5 separate regions of the Homo sapiens genome follow, and all the other regions are reported to be linked to region 1. Evidence: microRNA targets listed by miRTarBase, many of them from high-throughput screens and not tested one by one. Region 1 holds a microRNA gene; each other region holds the end of a gene's coding sequence.
The links. The annotated mature microRNA hsa-miR-96-5p reads UUUGGCACUAGCACAUUUUUGCU and lies in region 1 at 1,957-1,979, opposite strand. An mRNA with a match to its seed (bases 2 to 7 or 8) in the 3' UTR can be bound and repressed. Matches are read on the target gene's strand: a 7mer-m8 pairs with bases 2 to 8, a 7mer-A1 pairs with bases 2 to 7 and ends in A, and an 8mer does both.

Region 2: miRTarBase lists FBXO21 as a target of hsa-miR-96-5p. Seed matches in the 3' UTR shown: 7mer-A1 at 3,237-3,243.
Region 3: the mRNA of RASA1 is a reported target of hsa-miR-96-5p. Seed matches in the 3' UTR shown: 7mer-A1 at 841-847 and 7mer-A1 at 1,095-1,101.
Region 4: the mRNA of RAB35 is a reported target of hsa-miR-96-5p. Seed matches in the 3' UTR shown: 7mer-m8 at 3,526-3,532, 7mer-A1 at 2,167-2,173 and 7mer-A1 at 1,553-1,559.
Region 5: miRTarBase lists ZNF185 as a target of hsa-miR-96-5p. Seed matches in the 3' UTR shown: 7mer-m8 at 1,879-1,885 and 7mer-A1 at 1,234-1,240.

What each region holds. Positions count from the first base shown.
Region 1 is chr7:129,772,783-129,777,361 of GRCh38, forward strand. MIR96 (microRNA 96) reads right to left here and starts at 1,987; the gene lies at 1,910-1,987. It overlaps MIR183 (microRNA 183), which reads right to left and starts at 2,232; the gene lies at 2,123-2,232. RefSeq lists enhancers at 451-1,312, 4,156-4,579.
Region 2 is chr12:117,142,855-117,146,854 of GRCh38, reverse strand. FBXO21 (F-box protein 21) reads left to right here. Exons shown (of 12, transcript NM_015002.3): 12 at 578-4,000. The coding sequence ends at 768. Among named protein-coding and RNA genes, the nearest start is that of TESC-AS1, 45 kb to the right of the region's middle. RefSeq lists enhancers at 3,384-3,463, 2,864-4,000.
Region 3 is chr5:87,390,124-87,394,702 of GRCh38, forward strand. RASA1 (RAS p21 protein activator 1) reads left to right here. Exons shown (of 25, transcript NM_002890.3): 25 at 677-1,793. The coding sequence ends at 760. CCNH (cyclin H) reads right to left here. Exons shown (of 9, transcript NM_001239.4): 9 at 4,151-4,361. The coding sequence ends at 4,323. Among named protein-coding and RNA genes, the nearest start is that of CCNH, 21 kb to the right of the region's middle.
Region 4 is chr12:120,093,547-120,098,125 of GRCh38, forward strand. RAB35 (RAB35, member RAS oncogene family) reads right to left here. Exons shown (of 6, transcript NM_006861.7): 6 at 1,553-3,827. The coding sequence ends at 3,699. It overlaps BICDL1 (BICD family like cargo adaptor 1), which reads left to right. Exons shown (of 10, transcript NM_001367886.1): 10 at 1-948. Among named protein-coding and RNA genes, the nearest start is that of RAB35, 21 kb to the right of the region's middle. RefSeq lists an enhancer at 1-538.
Region 5 is chrX:152,969,618-152,974,196 of GRCh38, reverse strand. It overlaps ZNF185 (zinc finger protein 185 with LIM domain), which reads right to left. Exons shown (of 25, transcript NM_001395254.1): 24 at 3,656-3,754; 25 at 723-2,923. The coding sequence ends at 3,656. Among named protein-coding and RNA genes, the nearest start is that of PNMA5, 22 kb to the left of the region's middle.

The DNA of each region.
Region 1 (4,579 bases):
CACCAGTGCCTGCACTCGGGGCTCAGCAAAGGCGCCCACCTGGGCAGGTGTGAGGAGGTGGAGCCCAGCTGCAGACCACCCAGGGGCTGAGGGCAGCTTCTGTCATCCGGCCTTCCCCGCTAGGCAGGAAGGAGCAGAACCCTGGCCAGACACTCCAGAGGCTCCAGGGAAAAGCTCTAGAACCGGTCACTGCCAGGGGCCTTCCACCCCCCCTTGCTGGGTCTCTGTGCCCACCCCACCTCCAGGGCTCATTCTCACTCAGGCCGGGAAATCCCTTCTTTCCTATCCCATGGGACCTGCAGCAGGACGCCCTAAGGAAGCACCCGGGGCGGAGGACTGGAGCACAGAGACAGGGTGCGGCACAGGCCAGCCAGGTTCCGAGGGGCAGAGGGAGAGCTGGGGCCATCAGAAGAGAGACCTAGCTACAGGGACACCTCACCAGGGCAGAAGTCCCCTTCTATCCTGAAATAAACAAGCCCCTCCTTTTTTCTGCAGGGGCTTGGAGAGCTTCTGTAGAGAAACACGGGCACCACACCCCAGAGGGAATTTATTGGGGGCTCCTCGCGGTTTGGTGATAGCTAACTGACAAGAAAAAAAAGGCCCAACCCACCCAAGGCAGTCCCCAGGGCACCCAGGCAGGCAGCACTGGTCACCATGTTCCTGCTGTGCAGTCAACTGGACCCGTCATCCTCCAGCTGCCAGCTTCAACCACACACATCCCCCACCCGGGCACTCCCTGGCTCAGACACCTAAAATGACTCCCACTGATCTGGGCTAAGTCCACCAACCCTTGCCTGAGGCTCCCTGGGGAGAAGCAGCCCCATCAGGGGCTGGCCCAGTGACCTGGGGCATGATAGCTCCCAGCTGGTCCCAAGTCGGCCACTGGTCTCCTGCTTGATTGCTGACCACCAGATTTCACATGGGTCCAGCCTGGCTGGCCAGGCTCTCCCCAGCTTTGACAGACTAGGTCCAGGCCTCCCAGCCTCAGTCTCTGCCATCTGGGGCATCCTTGGGAGCCCAGGCCTGTAGATTCAGAGCTGAGACACCTCCAGGCCCTGGGTGCCTCCATGGAAGGTGTGGCTGGTGGCGGAAGAGCCACAGTGACCCAGCTCTACCACTCACCAACCTCTTCAGCCAAGCCTTTCCTCTCAAAGCCTCAGGTTCCCCATCTATGAGATAACTATTTTAAAAAATTACAAGCCCCACAGGGCTGAGGTGGGAACTGTTGGGATTATATATGTAATGTCACCTGACACCCAGATGGAGAGCATAGGCCAGTTAGTCATAGCCCAGATCCAGGGACCCAGGAAGCTACATTACCAGTGTGTGGTGTGTGAAGGGGAACATTGGCCTCTGCTCCAGAACCTTCTAGGGGCAGGCCTGAAAATGCCCTCCAACTCCGAGCCCCACTAAGTATCCTCCTCTTGGAGCTGTTCGGAGATGACCCACTCCACAGCAGGCTACAGCTCCAGAGACGGTAGCCCCCCTGGAAACACCCAGGCTGACCTCAAGGGCAGCCCACCTGCCTGGAGCTGCCCCCTTCACAACCTGCAGCAGAAAAGACCAGGCCCTGTGCTGCCAGCCAAGGTCTCACCCCAAGCGTGTGCTGGGAGCCTGGCTGGGCCTTTCCAACCCACGGCACCATTCAGGATGGCCCTACAGATGGTTTCAGACTCCCCCACCTCTGCCCTGGGCGGCCCCATCTGCTGGCCCAGCTCAGATTGCTGGGCTCCCAGCTCTACCGTGGCCCCAGGCAGTGTAAGGCGATCTGGCTGCCCACCAGCGCTGGGCCCTCACACAGCAGCTGAGCCAGATGGGCTGGGGAGGCGGTGAGGAGGCCTTGAGGAGGAGCAGGCTGGGGCCCTGACACAAGGATGCAGGGGAGGCGGACGCAGCTGCGGGTCCTGCTTTTCCCATATTGGCACTGCACATGATTGCTCAGAGCGGAGAGACACAAGCAAAAATGTGCTAGTGCCAAAATCGGCCAAGCAGATGGCACTGGTGCGGGCTCTCTGGGGACACACTGGACGAGGGGCCTTGCATCCCTGCACCCTTGGAAGCAGCCTGTTTCCGACGTCTAGGAGCACTCAAGGCAGAAGTGGGTAAGGTGCTCCGGAGGCCCTCGTGGATCTGTCTCTGCTCTGTTTATGGCCCTTCGGTAATTCACTGACTGAGACTGTTCACAGTGAATTCTACCAGTGCCATACACAGAACAGGAGTCACACTCTGCGGCCTGCCGACCCTGCGGAGAGACCAGCGGCCCACGATGCCCGTTCCCTGCTCCTAGCCTGCCCACTCCCTTGGGGGCCCCCCAGCAGGCCCTCAGCAGCGGCTGCTACGGTCTCTACCCCCCACCCCATCCCACCTCTTCACAAGATCCACATGCCCCATCAGCCCAAGATGACCTTCAAGGAGACAGGGACAGTGCGGGAGAGGAGCTGACCTTCTGGCCTTGCAGAGGAGAAGACCACACCAAGGTGTCTCCTATCTCCACCTGAAGGCCCACATCCCTCCACATCACCCAGACTGCGCCTCCAGGCTGGGGAGGGAGTGGGTCAGGACCATCCATCTCCTTGCCAGAGTAACTCTGGCTCGGAGAGGCAAGCAGCTGGCCAGAGCCTCCTCTCTACCCAACCTGCCACAGGGGCAGTGACCAGTGGGACATCCAAGATGCCTCTCGTAGCCTCTGAGCCCAGACACCAGCAGCCCAGGCTCCTAGGCACTTTGGTCTCCATTATCCTCCACCCCCCAGCCTGCCCTGTGGCAGAAACAGAGCCCCAGGAACAAACCGAATCTGCTGCTCACCCCCACTCCCATCCCAAACCAGACCAGATTGGGCCAGACTGTGAACCGCCCAGGCTGGGCATCTCTGCTGCCGGCCTAGGATCAAGGCAGGAAAAGGCCAGGAAAGGAGGGCAGAAGAGAAGTCCTGCAGCCACCCAGGTGGCTTGGAGGGAGCCGGAGGCACGGATGCACTCTAGCAAGGGAGTGGCTCCTGGCTGGCTCTGGAGTGACTGCGGAGGAAAGCGGAGGCTCAGGAGCGAGGGAGGGGCTGGGAAGGTTGCATCAGTGGTTGCCAGAGCAGCTGCCTAGAGAGAAGTTGCTGTGGAGGCCCTGCCTCTGGTGTCACAGGCCCTGGGGAAGGACGGGAAGAAGGGAGAGGGTGGGAGGGAGGGTCTCTGGGGAGCTGGCACCCAGGGCAGGCAAGCTGGGGCCTCCGCAGAGTGGCCACTAGAGTCTCAGCCTACTCCAGGTCAGCGGTGGCCCAGAAGGCAGGGTGGCTAGAAAATATCCTGGAAGGGTCAGAGCAGGTGCCCTGGCCCAGAAACTATGCAGACCTCTTGGCGATGTTACCCCCAGGAACTACCTCCCGTGGACCTCAGAGCTCCATCTGGGTACCTTGGCCAAAGCCATCCGCTCTCCCCTAGACACTGCTTAATGCTCCACCCTTCCTGCTCCCGAGGACTCTTTGTCCTGCTCCCACACACCCCCACTACAGGGCTCTGCCCTTCTAGCTGGTCTATCTCCCCAGAGGACAATCCAGCTTGATGAGGTGGTGATCTCAGGAAGTCACTCCTCAGCCTTCTGCCTCAGTTTCCCTTACTACAATTTTCTGAACTCTACTAAGGAAGAGAGACCAGACTTCCCAGCCTTGGGTGGGGAGGGGAAGGGGTGATGGCAGGGTGTTAGCAAAGAGTATGGGGTGGGTAGTTATGAACATTGCTTAGGGTGTAGCCATAAGCATCACCCAAGGAGCCTGTTGAAATGTAGATTCTTGAGCCTGCCTGGAAATCTGCATTTTAATAGCACCCTGACAGCTCAGCATGGGGTGGGGGTGGGGGTGGGAAGATCTATTTTGAGAAATCTTTCCCAAGAAGCCTCACCCTGGGATAATTAAACAGAATGCAGAATTCTTCTTTCTTCTGGCTGGGCGCAGTGGCTCACACCTGTAATCCCAGCGCACTTTGGGAGACGGGAGGATCGCCTGAGGTTAGAAGCTCGAGACCAGCCTGGTTAGCATGGTGAAACCCCCGTCTCTACTAAAAATACAAAAATTAGCCAGGCGTGGTAGCAGGCGCCCGAAGCTGAGGCAGGAGAATCGCTTGAACCCGGGAGGTGGAGGTTGCAGTGAGCAGAGATCGCACCACTGCACTCCAGCCTGGGCAACAACAGAGCGAGATTCTGTCTCAACAACAACAAAAAAAAAAAAAAAAAAAAAAAGAATTCTTCATTCTTCTTTTGGGGACAGCCAAGGATGGGGAGAGGCAGGTGTTAGGGAAGGGGAACACGCAGCACCTTGCAACCAAGGAGCCACAGAGGCCTTAGAGCTGGAGAACAGATGGAGCCAGGGATTCTGCTCTCCCCAGCCCAGGAAGGAATAAAAGGGACCCCAGGTAGAGGAGAGAGCCCTGTAACAAAGCAGCCAAACACGTACGCTCCTTCAAATTGTGGCATCTCTGTCGAGCTCCTTGGTCTGTTTTCCTCATCTTTGTAACTGACATAGGATGGAATACAGGGAGCAGCTCGCAAAGCCAAATCCCTCTCCACTTCCAGTTCTAGTCGGCTGGGCCAGGTTCCT
Region 2 (4,000 bases), not on the chromosome of region 1:
GGAGGTGCAAGCCACCTTCCTTTCATCCCACGGTCTCACAGCAGCCCTGGAAAGAGGCTGCTCTCTGTTGGAAGCTAAGGGCCAGTGTTGGAAGGAGCTCGGGTGGAAAGTGTGGTCTGCATGAGGGGCTCCTGTGAATAGAGGAGAGGGGTGGCAGGTACGAGACTTGTCACCATGTGACATGGCAGCTTCAGAAACTTAGCCACTGCCAAAAAAAGAGCAGGCAGGGATAATGTTGTCCCATTGTCCAGTCAGAGAGACCTGTTGAGTCTCTAGTTTGCCAGTCCCCAAGAGACCTTTGGAGTTTTGCTGGAGCCAGACATCCTGCTTAGAGATGAGGAAGATCCTGCTGTTCCGTGGGGAGCTCTTGAGACACCCGTGCCACCACCCACCTTCTCCTGATTGCCACTTGCTGCCCTTTTCCCATTACCCTCTCCTGACTCCATAAACATCTTCAGTCTTCCCTTCTCCACCCCAAAAATGCCACCTGGAAGGGGTGATGGGAGGTTCTCTGGATGAAAGGTGTGGCAGCAATGGACATTGTAATGAGAATGCCCGTGTGCCTCTTTACCAACAGAAAACTTGGAATATAACGTGGAGCCTCAAGAAATCTCACACCCTGACGTGGGACGCTATTTCTCAGAGTTTACTGGCACTCACTACATCCCAAACGCAGAGCTGGAGATCCGGTATCCAGAAGATCTGGAGTTTGTCTATGAAACGGTGCAGAATATTTACAGTGCAAAGAAAGAGAACATAGATGAGTAAAGTCTAGAGAGGACATTGCACCTTTGCTGCTGCTGCTATCTTCCAAGAGAACGGGACTCCGGAAGAAGACGTCTCCACGGAGCCCTCGGGACCTGCTGCACCAGGAAAGCCACTCCACCAGTAGTGCTGGTTGCCTCCTACTAAGTTTAAATACCGTGTGCTCTTCCCCAGCTGCAAAGACAATGTTGCTCTCCGCCTACACTAGTGAATTAATCTGAAAGGCACTGTGTCAGTGGCATGGCTTGTATGCTTGTCCTGTGGTGACAGTTTGTGACATTCTGTCTTCATGAGGTCTCACAGTCGACGCTCCTGTAATCATTCTTTGTATTCACTCCATTCCCCTGTCTGTCTGCATTTGTCTCAGAACATTTCCTTGGCTGGACAGATGGGGTTATGCATTTGCAATAATTTCCTTCTGATTTCTCTGTGGAACGTGTTCGGTCCCGAGTGAGGACTGTGTGTCTTTTTACCCTGAAGTTAGTTGCATATTCAGAGGTAAAGTTGTGTGCTATCTTGGCAGCATCTTAGAGATGGAGACATTAACAAGCTAATGGTAATTAGAATCATTTGAATTTATTTTTTTCTAATATGTGAAACACAGATTTCAAGTGTTTTATCTTTTTTTTTTAAATTTAAATGGGAATATAACACAGTTTTCCCTTCCATATTCCTCTCTTGAGTTTATGCACATCTCTATAAATCATTAGTTTTCTATTTTATTACATAAAATTCTTTTAGAAAATGCAAATAGTGAACTTTGTGAATGGATTTTTCCATACTCATCTACAATTCCTCCATTTTAAATGACTACTTTTATTTTTTAATTTAAAAAATCTACTTCAGTATCATGAGTAGGTCTTACATCAGTGATGGGTTCTTTTTGTAGTGAGACATACAAATCTGATGTTAATGTTTGCTCTTAGAAGTCATACTCCATGGTCTTCAAAGACCAAAAAATGAGGTTTTGCTTTTGTAATCAGGAAAAAAAAAAATTAATGAACCTTAAAAAAAAAAAAAAAGGTTTTGAAGGGAAAAAAAGTGGTTTCACACCTCTTGTTATTCCTTAGAGTCACTTCAAGGCCTGTTTGAATGTGGCAGGTTAGAAAGAGAGAGAATGTCTTTCATTTGAAGAGTGTTGGACTTGTGTGAAAGGAGATGTGCGTGTTGGAATCTGCTTTTCCAAGCCGCCAGGGTCCTGACGGCAGCAGGACGAAGCCTGTTGTGGCGTCTTCTGGGAAAGCCTGACCGTGTGTTCGGACGGCACTGGCTCCTTTCCGAAGTTCTCAGTAACTGAGCCCAGAGTAACTGCACGCCTTTGTGCAGCTCTGGAGCTCCACCAACTCTCGGCCTGCCAGTTCTCAAGCGAGCTAATCTTGTCATTAATCGATAGAAGCTAACTTCCGAAGTTAGGACCTAGTTACTTTGCTCTCAACATTTAAAATAATGCAGTTGCTCTAGTGAATGGGGCGTTAGGGGCCTGTCTCTGCACCTGTCTGTCCATCTGCATGCAGTATTCTCACCCATGTTGAATGCCTGCTGCTTGTTTACCCTTTGGAAACCCTGGGGTGACCAAGGTTTGGAAAGCCACCTGAGACCACTTCATAGCAAGGGAAGGCTTTAAGCAGTTACTAGAAAGAGATGGGGATTTGGCCCCTGGCTCCTCCAGCCTGAATGAGCTATTTAATCCACTGTCCATGTTCCTCATCAGTCAAATCCAAAGTCAAAGGATTTGAACCTGCATCTGGAAACGTAACCACTCACAGCACCTGGCCCGCCAAGGTTGGGAGGATTGTACACTACTTTCATTTAAAGGGGAAAGTTTGATAATACGGAATTAATTAATATGAATGAGATGCATTAATAAGAACCTGAGCATGCTGAGAGTTGCAATTGTTGGTTTTCTGGTTTGATTGATTTCCTTTTTTCTTAGACACATCAAAGTCAAGAAAGATGGTTTTACCTTTACTGACCCAGCTGTACATATGTATCTAGACTGTTTTTAAATGTCTTTCTTCATGAATGCTTCATGGGGCTCCAGGAAGCCTGTATCACCTGTGTAAGTTGGTATTTGGGCACTTTATATTTTTCTAAAAACGTGTTTTGGATCCTGTACTCTAATAAATCATAAGTTTCTTTTTAAAAATTTTCCAAAACTTTTCTCCATTTTAAAAAGCCCTGTTATAAACGTTGAACTTTCACAATGTTAAAATGTTAAATATTTGGATATAGCAACTTCTTTTCTCTTCAAATGAATGCCAAGATTTTTTTGTACAATGATTAATAAATGGAACTTATCCAGAGAAACCACGCAAATGGCCTGCCCAATTTCGTTTGAGGACAGAAAGCCCAGCCATGACTTGAGTAGAATGTCTCTCACCTCTCTTCGGATCTAAATATGAAAAGTATGTTCTGCTGAATTTTTCTGAGCATTGGTGAGCGGACAGCCTACCTGTAAACCATGACCTCCTTGCCAAACGTTAATTTTATCAGCTCACTAGTAACCTTTGAGAATTATCTGGTTGTCATGCAAAGATTGCACTTTCTGAATTATGTTAAAACACATGTTGTAAAATGAGAACTGCTCATGCTTTGAAAGAAAACCAGGTTCTTCGTGCGTTCTGTTGCCGTTGATTTGAATGGCTGTGCTGTATACGATGTGTCCAGAATGTCTTCAGAGCACTGTTTCCGTGTGATGTTACTACCTACTATGTGGGAGGAAAAAAGGTTATAGGTTAAACAAAGTCAATTGACTCTATGGTGGTGTTTCTCAATACCTGTGACGCACAGTACTGTGCGTCGTGACTTTCTAAGAGAAGTGTGCAGCGGGTGTGTCATCTTGATATATGAAACCCTGGAATTTCCCTCCCCTACACGCACGCACCGTCCCCGGGGGTCCGGTGTTTGCAGACATGCTTTGAAAAGCTGTCTCAGTGAGACATCAGTTATGTCCAAAATGAGTTTACCTTAGAATCAGACCGGTTTTGCCAGGCGTCATGTTTGCAAACATTATCCACCTAATCAGATTTTGAAAGGCCGGCTTTCATGTCGCCTGCCTGAGACTCATAACAGATCCCCATTATAAGCGCGTTTACACAGCAAAATGATTTTATTGAGAAAACCAGCATTAAGTACTGTTGCCGGCTCAGTTTTCCATTGCATACTATCTACTTAAAGTCCCGTTCTCATTTGTAAGTGTTCCGATCTTTCCCCACGGAGAAAACTGAGCAGAGCT
Region 3 (4,579 bases), not on the chromosome of region 1:
TATTCAAAGACCAGACCAGAATTTGAAGGGACTTAATACCAGGTCAATTAAGATATTGGAGATATAGAACAAAATGAGTTACACTTTGAATGTCCTCAGCTGACATAAGGGCTACTGAGAGGAAGTGACCACAGGGACAGTTTTGACTAGTTTCTAATGTAGTTTCAGGAGATAGTGAATGCTGTCACCGCACTGGCTAACCATTTGGCAGGGATTTTGTAGAAGGGATTAAAGCATTGAGTTTGGTGACTGAGTTCTCTACAACCTGAGATTCTAGAATCCTCAAGTCCTGTTTCTCCCCGCCCCTCCCCCCGCAGCTTTCAAAACTAATAATATGACTTGACTTGCCTTAGATATTAAATAAAAAAAGCCTTTTTTAAAAGAGAGATAAACTGCTTCTGACAACATGTGATAGTGTGATAGTTCTGGCCTAAAAAATAGGAGCATGCCAAACACAAACAAATTTCTGTTCACTTTAGGGTATAAAAATTCTCTTAGTTATGACCAGAAATACTCAGCCAATGACTGAATAATAGAGACTTATGTTTTGAGGGGAATTGTGGTAATATTTTATGCATCCTTTTGCTTTGATACAGTTTTTTTCAAATCCAGGTTCCCATCCTGAAATTGCTGACCGAGCTTTCATTTATTTTCATACCATTTTTCCTCTGTCTAGCACGTATTGAAAAAGCTTCTGGCTATAACAGAACTGCTTCAACAAAAACAAAACCAGTATACAAAAACCAATGATGTCAGGTAGCAGCCTTCGCCCCAGTGTTCTGCATGGATTCAGCATGTCCAACATGGTAATTCACTTCAGTTTAATGTCTCCTTTGCTCTTGCCAAAAAATAGCACACTTTTCCACATTCCAGTGATGTGTGAGCTATGCAAACAAAATCCAAGATTCTGCTGGTGAATAACTATGCCAGCAACCTTGTAAGCTATCTGTGCAGGATATTTGCACTATTTCCACATGGAATCAATCTTTAACAACCTCTGAGCCTTGGTGTACAGACCACCTTTCACAAAACGAAATGCTATGACTGTATCTTGATATCTCGAACTTTCAAAATATATTTTCAGTACACCCAGTTGCCAAAGTTTTGCTGTCTCTTAGAGAAAGAACTATGAAATCAACTGACAAGAAACACATTCTTATTGACAATTGTGTATAACTGGATTGCAGACTGTTCTTACTGTAACTACTTCCTGATTAGGAATATGACCATTTGACTGTTCAATGATTATTTGTATTTACAGTTTCCAGAGTTTGTCATTATAATAGGAACAATCTTTGCTGTATACTTTTAAAAAATACTCTGCTATTTCTCTTGCTGGAACTGTTGAAAGAAAATATATAGAATGATCTATTGCTCATCAGCTTTATTTTTTAAACATACGACTTATTTTGTTGAAATTGTCAAAGACTGTATTTAGATCTCATAATGCTTTGTTAAATGTTTACAAGTAAATAGTTTGAATTCAGTAAATATTATTGGTTGTTGTATTGATCAATGCATGTTACCCATTCAACCATTTTATAGACTACCAATTTCTTTTATGTTAACTAGAATGCTTTTGTTAAAAGTTATTTGTTCATTATTTGTGCTACCCCTTTGATTATGCAGACAACCTCATCAGCTGCCTAACTTATCCATCTTTGAACTTCTGACTACTTGTTGTATCTGCTGGATATTTAGTTCAACTGTATAGTTTTATTTACTTCTGTATGTGTATTTTTGTGAAGTATTCACAAAGGTTAAGTTAAAATAAAACCAAGGGATATCTTGCATAATTGATTACTTCTGTCTAAAAGAGCTAAGCATTTAATTTATTTATTTTCTTCCTCCTTCAGGGGCAGTTTAAACCTTAGCATCAGAGCAAGGCCCAGGGAGAAGCTGAAGCTTTAGATTAGTATTTTTGCTAATGGCCTCTTTTGAAAAGGATTTTATAAATGCAATAATTCCTTCCCTCTCATAATTGTGCAGGGCAGATAGATAGGACATATGGAACATACGTGGCAGAATGACATTGGTAATCAAAGTGAGTGAGACAGGAACCCAAGGAGGTGTTCCCACAGTAAGGAAAGCCCTAGATTCCAAGAGCAACACTTTATGCTATTCCTCTAATGTATAAAATACAGGAAAAAAAAATGCTAAGGGCTTAAAAGATGTCTGCTTAGTAGTTCCAAGCTACAAAAGGCAGTTATTTCTATGGGGGCTGCTAACCTATGTGGCTTCAATCACCGTTTAACACTGATACCAAAAATCTCAACATGTCCCATGCTCCTTTTCCTTGAAATCAGCTCAATTCATTCCATTCTCTCCCTTCTTGGCTCTTTTATCAAATTACTCTCCTTTCCACCCCTTCTGTTTTTTAGCTGGACTTGGACCAACATAGTATCCCAGGTGGTCTCCTTCCTTGGTTACATGATAGAAGACAGGGAGGATATGGATTAGTCAAGATATTTTTGCTGTGCACTTTGGCTCCCATTTATCACACCTCAATCTTTAGCCATACTAACCTGTCATTCCTCAGTCTGAAATCCTTCTCCCTTTTATTTAAAATCACAAACCTGACTTACCCTGCTTCTTATATTTTAACATCATTTGTCTCTCAAGTTGAAATGGAAACTTGTTACTTACCTTTGTAGGCCCTCTAGTAACTAGCTTGTCAGTGTTGAAATAAAATCTCTCACACTTTAACGTTTTTAATGGGGCTGGGTGGGAAAATTTTCAGTGATAAGTGTGGACCTTGCTCTGATGCCAAAGTTTGGCGATCTGAAAGGGAAAATGAGACAAATTGTGAACATCTTGTAATTCTGTCTAGAGCCTAGCAGCAATATATTTAACTAGGACTGCGATGGAGGATTTATAACTTTTGGCTTCTTCCACTCTGCTTTTGTAAAAATCTCACATCACGAATTTTATTCCTTTCACTCTGGAATGAGAAAAAAAAAAAACCCACAAAACTCAAGCCTACAGTGTAAAGAATTATTGTTAGAGAGATGAATATGCATATAGTAAGTATTGCCTTAAAATAGATGTAACTATAATGGTACCTACCTTTCTGGAAAGTACAGCCTGGGATGTACTGAGACTGAGGAGGTGTGTGTATTTGTGCAATTTAATTAGATTCAGGACACTTGAATTACTCGGAATTCCTTCAAGCCAGTTTTCCTGAAAAAAATCTGGCTTGGTAAACAGACGTCCACAGTTTGGTTCCAATTATAATAGTTAACACTTACTGAATACTAGTGTATGCAGGTACTATTCTAATTAATCCTATGAAGAGTAGGCATTTTTATCTTCCCCATTTTCAGTGTGGGAAACTGGCACTTAGAGGTTTAATAACTTACCAAGGTCACATAGTGAAATACAGCTGGCCATGATTCATATGTAAGTAATTTGCTGTAATAGTCTGTGCTTTCATATTTTTATATTGACTCATTTCAATTTGAATTACATTTCTCTAACATATTTAATCTGCAAAATTCCTAGTAACTGTTATAATCTACTTACACGGATTCACTTATAGGATCTAATAGGTTAATTATAAGGCTGTGGTGATGTGTGCCTGTAGTCCCAATTACTCAGAAAACTGAGGCAGAGGATCACTAGAGCCTAGGAGTCTGAGACAGCCTGGGCAACATAGCAAGACCTTACATCAAAACAAAATTAAAAAACAACCACAACTGAATATACAATTTGCTGCTACCTACTTATCTATACTAGCGTAAGAGTTTGATGTAGACAGCTATTCAAAATCATATATCTGGTTTTTTTTAAAAACCCATTTGGAAATGTTTTCGGGTAACTAAAGAAAAATAATATTCATTACCCAGACGACTGGCTTTCAGTACCATGTAACAGTTGAAATACCTTCTGCAGTTTAATAGTAATGGACAAATAGCTAAATATATCAGGATGGCATTCAAAAAGCCATTTATAAAGGTTTCTAGAGGGCAAAACACATTCCTTAACACTTTTAAAGCTGGCTACTAAGTTTTGTTTTTTGTGGTGCCTTTTTTAAAAAAAGCATAGGTTTGCCTATCATATTTTGCTTAAAAAATTAGGCAAATGAGTTGCAGCTTTAATTTGATATTAGTCACGATGGAATAAGAATATTCAAAACAGGTGCTATTCTAGCTCTTTTGAAGATGGTTTATTTTACATAAAGTTACTGTGAAAGGGAAAGAAAACAATAGAAAAGTTTTAATATATTTTATGTTTTCACATTATACTTTTTAAATAAAGTTAAACGTTTGATATGCTTCCTACTTCTCTTGATTAGTTAGCATTGAGAAATCAACTTCAAATGGTTAGAGAGATTCTACCAGGTCGTCATCAGTCCATTCTTCCTAAGAAGGAAAAAAAGTGTGGTAAGGATAACACTGAAGCATAACCAGTATTGTTTACCTCTTACCTCCCTTTAAGAAAATGTTCTCCTCCTTTTACCCATGTGGATTACAAAAGATAAACCAGGAAATTTTGTAATAGTTCACTGTTAGTAATGTTGGCATGGTCTCACCAGACTCCTCCAGTGAGGAATAAAGGTTATGGCTGTGACCTTTTGCCT
Region 4 (4,579 bases), not on the chromosome of region 1:
GAATGGAGGCCCTTCTCTGCATGCCTCAGGAGGCCTGAGCCCCAGGGGCCTAGACCTGTGGGGGCAGCGGGCCAGGCCTGAGCCTCCATTCCTTCCCCAGCCCCTGGCCCAGGGTCAAAGGAGAGATGGCAGCCCCTCCCCCGCATGCATGCACCTCAGCTGGCAGGAGGCCAAGCCTCTGGCCGCAGGGTCTAAGAGCCGGGGCTTACCCAAGCTCAGCTGAGGCCACCCGAGCCCCAGGGAGGAAGAAGGCCCTGTCCCCCTGTCGCCACTGCTCTCCCTCCCAGCCTTCAGTCTCTGCCCCTTAGCAGGGCCTGGCCAGGCAGAGTGTTATCACCAGTCATCTGCAGGCTTTAGCCATCCAGCCCTTTCCCCTGCTCAGGGCTGGGGTTGGACGGGGTCTCCTCCTCCCACAGCTCCCTCCTCCACCCCTCACATACATACATAATTTCTTGGCCTAGCCAAACAAGTCCAGGCCACTGAATGGCACCAGAGGGGTCTGTGGTCAGCCACCCCACCTTGAGGGCAGCACAGGCACCACGGGGTGGAGGGGAGGGGGAGGCTGCCGGAAGCCTCCAGATGCTGCCTGCCTGCCTGCAGAAGCCTGCAGTGGCTGCTGCTCCTGCCTCTGCAGCCGCCCCTCCTCCTCCACCCAGGCCCCAACTCAGAGGCTCCGCGGCCCGGCCAGCCCTCAGCTGCTCACAACCGATTCAGTCTCCCTCCCTCCCTCACGTGGGGAAAGCACAGCAGGGATGCGCGGCAAGAATGTACCTGTAGATGTGTACATACCACAGTGCTGTAATTTTGTATGTAGCAATCATGTAAATACATGTATGGATTTTATAATATACATATATAAAAATCTATAAAGGCATATTTTTAGAAAAACAGCACACCACTGCTTCTTTTGAAAATAGTCTGAATAAGAATAAAATGAATTTCTACAGAGCTTCCTGCCTCAGTCTCTGGGTATTTGCGGGGGGCGGGTTTGGTCTGAATGCAGCTGACATGTCAGACTCACCACTGGCTGCTGCTGGAGAGGTAGCAATAGTGGTTCCCCTGCACCCGGGCCACCTCAGATGCTGGTACTTACTTAACCAAGGGATTTGGCCAGGAAGGGCATCCTCCCCTGCCCCTCCCGCCTGGCACTGCCCCCTGCCAGTGCTGCAGCGTGCCATCCGCAAGGCAGGCCTGCCAACGCTGCTTCCCAGGCCAGCAGGGCCCTAAAGCTTGGCAGAAACTTCAAGCCAGAAAGAAACCACGCCAGGCAAAGGCTTCCACTGCATCCTTCCAGGCATGTGGAGGATAAACACGGAGCTTCCCCTGGCATCTTACCACATGTGCTCCCAGTCCAACTAGGGGGAGACTCAACCCTGGCCCACCTGTTCATGGAGAAAATGGACCTGGCTTCTGGAAGTGTCCCAAGGGCCTCGACAGGCTCCTGTGCAAGACTTAGGCCAAGAACAGGGAAGAGCAGGACACGGTGGGTGGGAAGAAGCCACGGCCACTCAGCACATCTCTGGAGGGAGAGCAAACAGACCCTGGAAGAAAATTTGGCAGCTTGAACCTTTATTTTTAGTATTTTTTTAAAAAGCATAATTAGAAACTTTCAATACAGAAATACTCCTAGCAAACCATTGAAAAGTGGTGTTTGTTTGACAGGAATTTCACATCAGGTCCACTAGGACGTCGGTCCAGCCCTGAGTCCCCACCCCCACCCCATAACCCCCATTCATGCGTGTAACAGTGGGACAGGCACACTGTCATGACCAAAATCACCCCAATACCTGGGGCTGATGTCCAGCTGCCAGAAGCCATGGGGGCTTCTAGCCTGGGCTGGAAGCCCCCAGGAACCCCCCTCTTATTGCTTGAATTTGCAAGCACACCCTCGCTGGCCTCGCCTGATCGCTCAGAGGCCAGCATGCCCCCCGCCCACCGGCACAGGAGCCCCAGGCACCGTGCATCCTCAGGGCCCGTGGCCAACCAGGACAGTCCCAAGGACGGAGACCCCGCTTCTGCTCCTGCCGCCCCCGCCCCCGACCAGATGAGGCTGCCTGCTGGTCAGCCCTGCAGCCCCCTCCACAGCACCCTCCTTCCCAGGCCCATGGGGCTCCCCCACCCCATCCCGTGGCTCCAAAGTGAAGGCCTGTCCCAGAATCACCAGCTTTTGGCAGTTTGGGCAAGTGGAGAGTCGGTGAGAAGAAACCCCCAGTTTTTATTGATTAAAAACCCATCCACAGTGCTAACATGGAAACTGCAGTGTGATCTGTGATGTGATTGTCCAATCAGGGCTCTCCCTGGAAATCGCCTAGGAAAGGAAATCTAAGGAAACACATCCTGGTGTTAAACTCGGTTCTTCCCAGGTCACTTGATCCCTGTAGTGGGAGGGGAATGAGGTGTCCGGGCTGGGGGTCGGGGAGCAGTCATCAAGTGCAGATGACCCTGGTTGTTCTCCAGGGCACTGGGGCGTGTCAAAACTGGCCGCCCCAGCCATTCCTTCCCACCCGCCAGGAAATCCTCTTGCTACCTTTGTCCTGACAAAGGTTAGGACAGTGACCAGGGCCTGTCCATGGTCCCCACCCAGAGGCCCCAGGCATGCACTCCCCACAGTGCCCGAGGCTGCAGTGTAGACTCCTGACCTCCAGTGGGAGGCAACTCGGACAAGGGTGGGAGGCCCCTTCTCCGCTCCCACCAAGAAAGCCCAAGAGTCCAGCCCCACAATGGCAGGAAGCCATTCATTTTTTTCTAAAAACAGTGGACACAAGTGGGGTGGCCTCAACTTTTGCTGCTGTGCCAATCAAACCTCAGGGAAAGAAAATAATTGTGAGGAATTTAATTCACTTGATTTGGCTTCATTTTCTTGATCTGTTAAAATAATCCTCCCATAGCCCCCCTGCCAGCCCCATCTCTGCACGAACCTACCCCGACCTTTCTGTTGGAACTGAAACCTGTTGGTGTAAATGAGAAGCCATGGCTGCCCTGGGTTTGGAGCTCAGAGGCATCTAGAAGGCAGGACAAGAAATCTGTTGGCCAAAGGGCAAGACCTGCCACCTCTGTGGAACTGCAGGGCCTGCCTTGAGACCAGGTTCCCCAGCTCCCAGAATGGCTGTGGGGACAGGACAACGGGGAGGGAAGGGAGCTGGCACAGGCCCCGGAGAAGGGGCAAGACCCTGTGCAGCGGGGACAGAGGCTGACAACCTGTCGGAGAGAATGAGCAACGCGGAGCCCACTCCACTGGCACGGGCTGGCCGCAGACGCAGCTAGAACGTGCCGCTGTCTCCTCAGGACGCTGCTTGCAGTAAGATGGGCTGGGGAGGGGCGCGGGGAGGGTCTGTTGCAGCAGGCTGGCATCAAGAAGGCAAAAGCCAGAGCAGGACGTGGTGTGCGGCCGGGTAGAGCAATATACACTATGTACAGACTCTGCGAATCAGTCCGCTCGGCGGGCAGCGTCCTCGCCAGGTCCAGGCGCCTTGGCCGGGGAGGAGGGGGCACCAGTAGGGAAGGGCGGGCTGGTCCAACACCTTCTTGGCACTCGAGGAGGGCGGGGGAGGAAGTGCCGATGGCACCTCCCGATACAAAAACATGGAGAGAATTCTTTAAATAACGGCACGAAACTGAGACTGTCCCCCGAGGAACCTCCGTGGGCCTCGGGCTGGGGGAGGGACCGCAGTGCAGTCTCTGCAGTGGACTGGGTGCCATTAGCAGCAGCGTTTCTTTCGTTTACTGTTCTTCGTGAGCTTCACCACATCGTTCTGTTGTTGCTGCTGCTGTTTTGCCAGGTTGTCTTTCTTTGCTCGGAGGACCAGCTCCGTGATGCAGTTGAACATCTGTGGAGAGGAAAGAGGAAGGGCCCGCCTCAGACCTGGCCAGGAGGCCCCTGCTGGCCTGCACGGCTGCCTCCCCGCCTTCCGGGGCCCAGCTCTTTCTACCTGTGCATTTTTGGTATGTATGTCTTCAAAGCCTATTCTAGAAGGAGGTGGTGAATTATTTTATTTAAAGGTCAAAAAGGAACAACATTGCTAAAACCCCACCTCTACAAAAAACACAAAAATTAGCCGGGAGTGGTGGTGCACACCTGTAGTCCCAGCTACTTGAGAAGCTAAGGTGGGAGGATTACTTGAGCCCAGGAGATCGAGACTACAGTGGGCTGTGAACACACCACTGCACTCCAGCCTGGATGACAGAGTTAGACCCTGACTCAACAAATAAATAAGTCTGAAAAAAGGAACACCATCAGAGGCCCATGAGCTGTGTGGACTTGGGGAAGTCAATCTCACAGGGGTTTTCCAGTCCTTCTTTTAGAGAGACCAACCCCTTTCCTTCAGCTGGAATCTTTTTTTTTTTTTTTTTTTTGTGAGATGGAGTCTCGCTCTGTCGCCCAGGCTGGAGTGCAGTGGCGTGATCTCAGCTCACTGCAAACTCTGCCTCCCTGGTTCACACCATTCTCCTGCCTCAGCCTCCCGAGTAGCTGGGACTACAGGCGCCCACCACCACGCCCGGCTAATTTTTTTGTATTTTTAGTAGAGACAGGGTTCCACCATGTTAGCCAGGATGGTCTCGATCTCCTGACCTCGTGATC
Region 5 (4,579 bases), not on the chromosome of region 1:
TAGTCCAATGGCCCTGAGGCCCCTACTCAGTGGCAGAAGGAGTTCTCGGAGTATTATGTCTATCTTTGGACTTCCTGATCACCCTTTCCTGTCCCTGGGTTGAATCAAGACTTGGATCGCATGCAGATTACACTGGTACACATCTAGAGGAATGAGTTGGAGTATGTGTTGGGGTCACCTTTGAGGAGGGCCTTTGAGAGATGTGTATTCAGAATTACTGTCAAGGAAGAGTTAGAGGGACCAGGGGTGTTTAAATGTGAGAAGAGTTGACCAAGACAGAATCTGAGAAGTATTTTCATCTATTTTAAGAGCTGGCATCTAGCGGAGGGATTAAAGACCACCAGTGGGTGACATACAGAAATGGACTTTAACTCAACTGAAGAATGCATCTTCTAAAACCACAGACAGCAGGGGCTTGTAAGGAACTGAGCTCCTGGTCACTGGAAGTGGGCACTAATGACTAGGTGGCTGTCTGTCTGCAGTGGTAATCATGAGAAGGATGGACCGCCCCCGCTCTCTGCCGCCACAATACAATATTCTTCATTAAGATTTGATGTGTCTAGAATTCCACAGTTCCTGTGCATGCCCAGTGTCTAGAGCTTGCTATTAAGTACTTGTTTACTTTTGTACAGAGAATGGCTTCAGGCAATAGGAATAAAGAAATCACACAGCTGAATACACCAAGTTATTACACTTCAAAAGAAAACTTTAACACTGACACATGTGATATCTTACCATTTATTATAATTGCGCACATTAGTGTGGATTAAGTATGATTAGAAACACTAAGCAATTGAAAAGAAGCAAAAAGGTAATGCATCCCTCTTCCTCAGATCTGCAAAATTCTGTGCCTTTTTAGACATGAGAGAGGCTGTTTTGGATCTAAGTCAATAATGGCTCTTGCAAGATTTCTTTCAATGTCTTGCATGTTGGTTCTAAAACTCCCTTAAAGGCAGACTATACCTTGAACGGGGGAAGCCAGCCTATCTTGGGCCTCTTTACCTTGCCTTTCATCCACTGGTCCTGCACTGAGACTCAGGGATAGCACCTCTCACCAACGGGGTGACTTTTATTTCCTTCACTCATTCATTGAGTGCCTGTGTGTTAGTGTCCACCACGTGCCAAGTCTGATGTTGGGGACTACAGCTGAGGAAGAGCAGTTGGTATTTAGTGTGGGTACATGCCCTCCAGAGGAAATCCACTACAAATAAATGGAATGTTCCTCTCTGATCATTTGGCAGGAAGAACAAGCCCACAAGCCAATGTGCATAGGGCTCAGAAACTGGAGAAAGACGTAGACATTTTATAATTAAATCAAGAGCAGAGGCCCTCATTTTGTATCAGAAATACTCTAAGGTTGTTCTTCCTTTCAAGGAACTTACAGAGTGATGCTGGGCCCACAGATGGCAGAGTCCAGCTGAACCTGAGCAGAGGATCGGCTGACTGCATGGACAGGCTTACATCTGCCCAGCCATCCAACGAGTTTCCATGTCCCAAGTACCTGGGGCCCCAGCAGTTGCCACTAGCTTAAGGCAGAGTCTAGACAGGAAAATGGGTCACTGAAAGCTCTCTGCTCAGATCAGCTAGCCCCCTGGAGCTTTTCCTGGATTCACAAGCTCCTCTTTGGTAATGTCTGTGAGTCAAATCTGTTCTCAGCTGAAAGCATCTCAGTTTGGAGGCATTTTCATGGGCGGAGAGGAGGGAAAGGGGCAGCTTGGCCCTTGAAGTACTTCATGGGGGGGGGGATAATTCAGGGATCCAGGATGCCCAGAGGAAGAGTGTGATTTCACACCTTCTGCTCTTTGCAAGCCTATGCCTTTGGGAGGCCTGAAGGGAGGGTGTTAACCTGGCAGGAACTGTGTACCCTCTGCACAGTGCTTGGCACACACTGAGCACAAAATCAATGCTTGCTTTTGTGGGTGCTGCTCTGGGAAGAGCATGGGCTCTGTAGCGTTCTGCGCAATGCAATAGCCACCTCTCTGAGTTCCAATATCCTCATGTCTAAGATGGGATGAGAATATCACCTTCACAGGATTATTATGGGGATTAATGCCATTACTCTGTGACAGTGCCTGCTATGTGGTAGAGCCTCAAGAAATGTTAGCTGCTTTTCCACCTCCTTAATCCTGCTGGGATCTATACACCCTAAAACCCACTTGGGAAGATTTATGTGTGAAGTTCAGGGAGCAGAATTGAGGGCAAATTAATCAGCTATCAAGATTCCAACAGACACAGATATCACTTTGATCAGTAGCATCCTAAAATCACATCCTACTGAATTTAAACCTAATTGTGTAAATTTTCCAACACATGCCAACATACCTGTAAGGGAACACTCAAATATAGTGAAAGGTGAGTGGAAGACCAAATGAAAAACTGCTATATAACTCAATCAAAAGCAACTAACTACTTTTACAAGTGTATGGAAATTTAAAAAAAATAGATATGGCAAATAGACAAGCTAAACACTAGCCTATGCCAATCCCTAGCATTTGATGTCTGCAATTTACCCACCAGGGATCATCAACAGTCTTCAACTTGGCCCATTATAAGCCTCAAGGGAGTCAGGACACACTGAACCCTACACTTCTGCCCACTTAAACTCATTAGAAAGCCAATCTGTCTTAGGGAAGCCAAGATGGAATTCCTGTTTGATCCTCTTTGGTTGAGCCTGAAATGACATCATGGGCATAAAGCGCTTTCTAAGCTACAAGAAGCTACACACACAAGCAATTATCATAGCATCATTAAGATACGATATTGGATGTATGCAACTTCAACTTGAGAAGGGCAAAAGCATGAAGAAATCAAACAGGGAGGGAGGAGGTGAGGGAAGGGGAGACAGCAACTTGGGGCAAAACTGGGGACAGCCAAATTTGTCCACGAGTCATCAGCTTCTGATCAGCCTGGCGGTGGGGGGTCGCTAAAAGAAAACAGAAGTAGCCATGAGACTGGAAACACATCAGCTAGAGGCCCTCAGGGTGGGTGACTGCTCCAGTCATCAGGAGTTACCACCTAGCTCAAGGTGTGTCTTCTGGAGAGAAGACCATCAGCATGGAGCTAGTGGAAAGCCTGGTTGCTACTGCCTTCAAGGGATATATTCTGCTCTGTGCTCAGACACCGTGATAAATTCCACTGGCTATGAGCATGCAAACACACATCTTCAGGCAGTTCTCATAATGTGGCCCAGAGGCTTGTTTCACTGAGCACCATGGCTATGCAGTCCTGATCTGAAGCTATGCGAGTGACAGTGAACAGAGAGCCCTGGACAAGAATCCAAAGACCTGGGGTGAGGTCCTGATTCTACCTGGGTTTCTCCAGGTCCCCTCCCTTTCTATATCTTTATTTCCTTGTTGCAAAATGGGGCTAACAACAGCGGCCGAGCGAGTATCCCAGGGTAGCTAGAGGGCTCGGCTCAGGTGCTGGACGGAAGGTGTGATTTGGAAGTGTCCTCATTGAGGGCCTTTGTCCATGCCACCTAAGATCTCAAAGTATCACAAGGCATAGGGACATGAGGACACAAGGCCCCCTGAACATAAGGAAGAGCCAAGAAAGATAGCTGTGTCTGGGGCTGAGACTCCAGGAGAGACCAGGGTGCATCTCTACTCCTTAATGAGTCTCTTGGCCACTTGTCCTTTGCAGTGCCAGCACCCACCTAGAAGAGCTTCTCATAGCATTTCCCACAGTGAATGGTGTCACGGTGAATGAAGATCTGATCCAGGAGATCGCCCATCGGTTTACTGCAAATCCCACACTGAAAAGAAAAGCAAGCTGGAGGTCAACACACAAAGCAAAGCAAGAGGAATGAGTGGAGTGGGAAGGGGATGCCTGAACAAGGTGGGCGAGCAGATGCTGTGAGCCCGTGGCACATCCTGGACCTCAGGACTTGCAAACATCACAAAATAATACAAAAAACATCACAAAATAATACAAAAAAAAGCCTTTTTTTTCAGTAGGGAGTAGTAAGCACAGCTAGCAGCTCAGCTACTTTCAAGGGCCAGTGGGCAAGCAAAGGGGAACCTGTTTGGCATGATTTGACCAGAAATGTGTTTCCCTGTGGTCAGCCGGTTCTCAGGAGAAGCTGCTAAGTGGGGCATGTTCTGCATTGCAGCACTTACTTAACCAGGAGCAAGCAAAGTTCAGGCCCTGTGGGGAGGACAGAAGCCTGCCTAACATTCTGTCAAGGCAAAGGGGAGGGTTGTTTTTCTCAGTGCACCCAGAGGTGACACCCTAAATGGATTGGAACCAACAACCTGGGGTTACAAAGTGCCACACACTGTGGAGAATGGGGACCCCAATGTCACTTAGAATAAAATCCAAACTCTGTGCCCGCCAAGGCCTACATGATCTAGCCCACTCTGTCACTCCTGGCATTCTCCCACGCAAGCTAGAACACTCTAGTGCTTCTGCCCCAGGGCTTTTGCACTTGCTGGCCCTCTGCCAGAAATAGTCTTTCCTGAAAAGACCTCTTTTGTCTTCCCTACAGTACTAAGCATGCAGAACCACCAACACTCATCTACTGTCTTAGACTTGGAAGCTCATTCAGCTCCCAGTTGTGCAAAGCCTCTGCGACTATGTG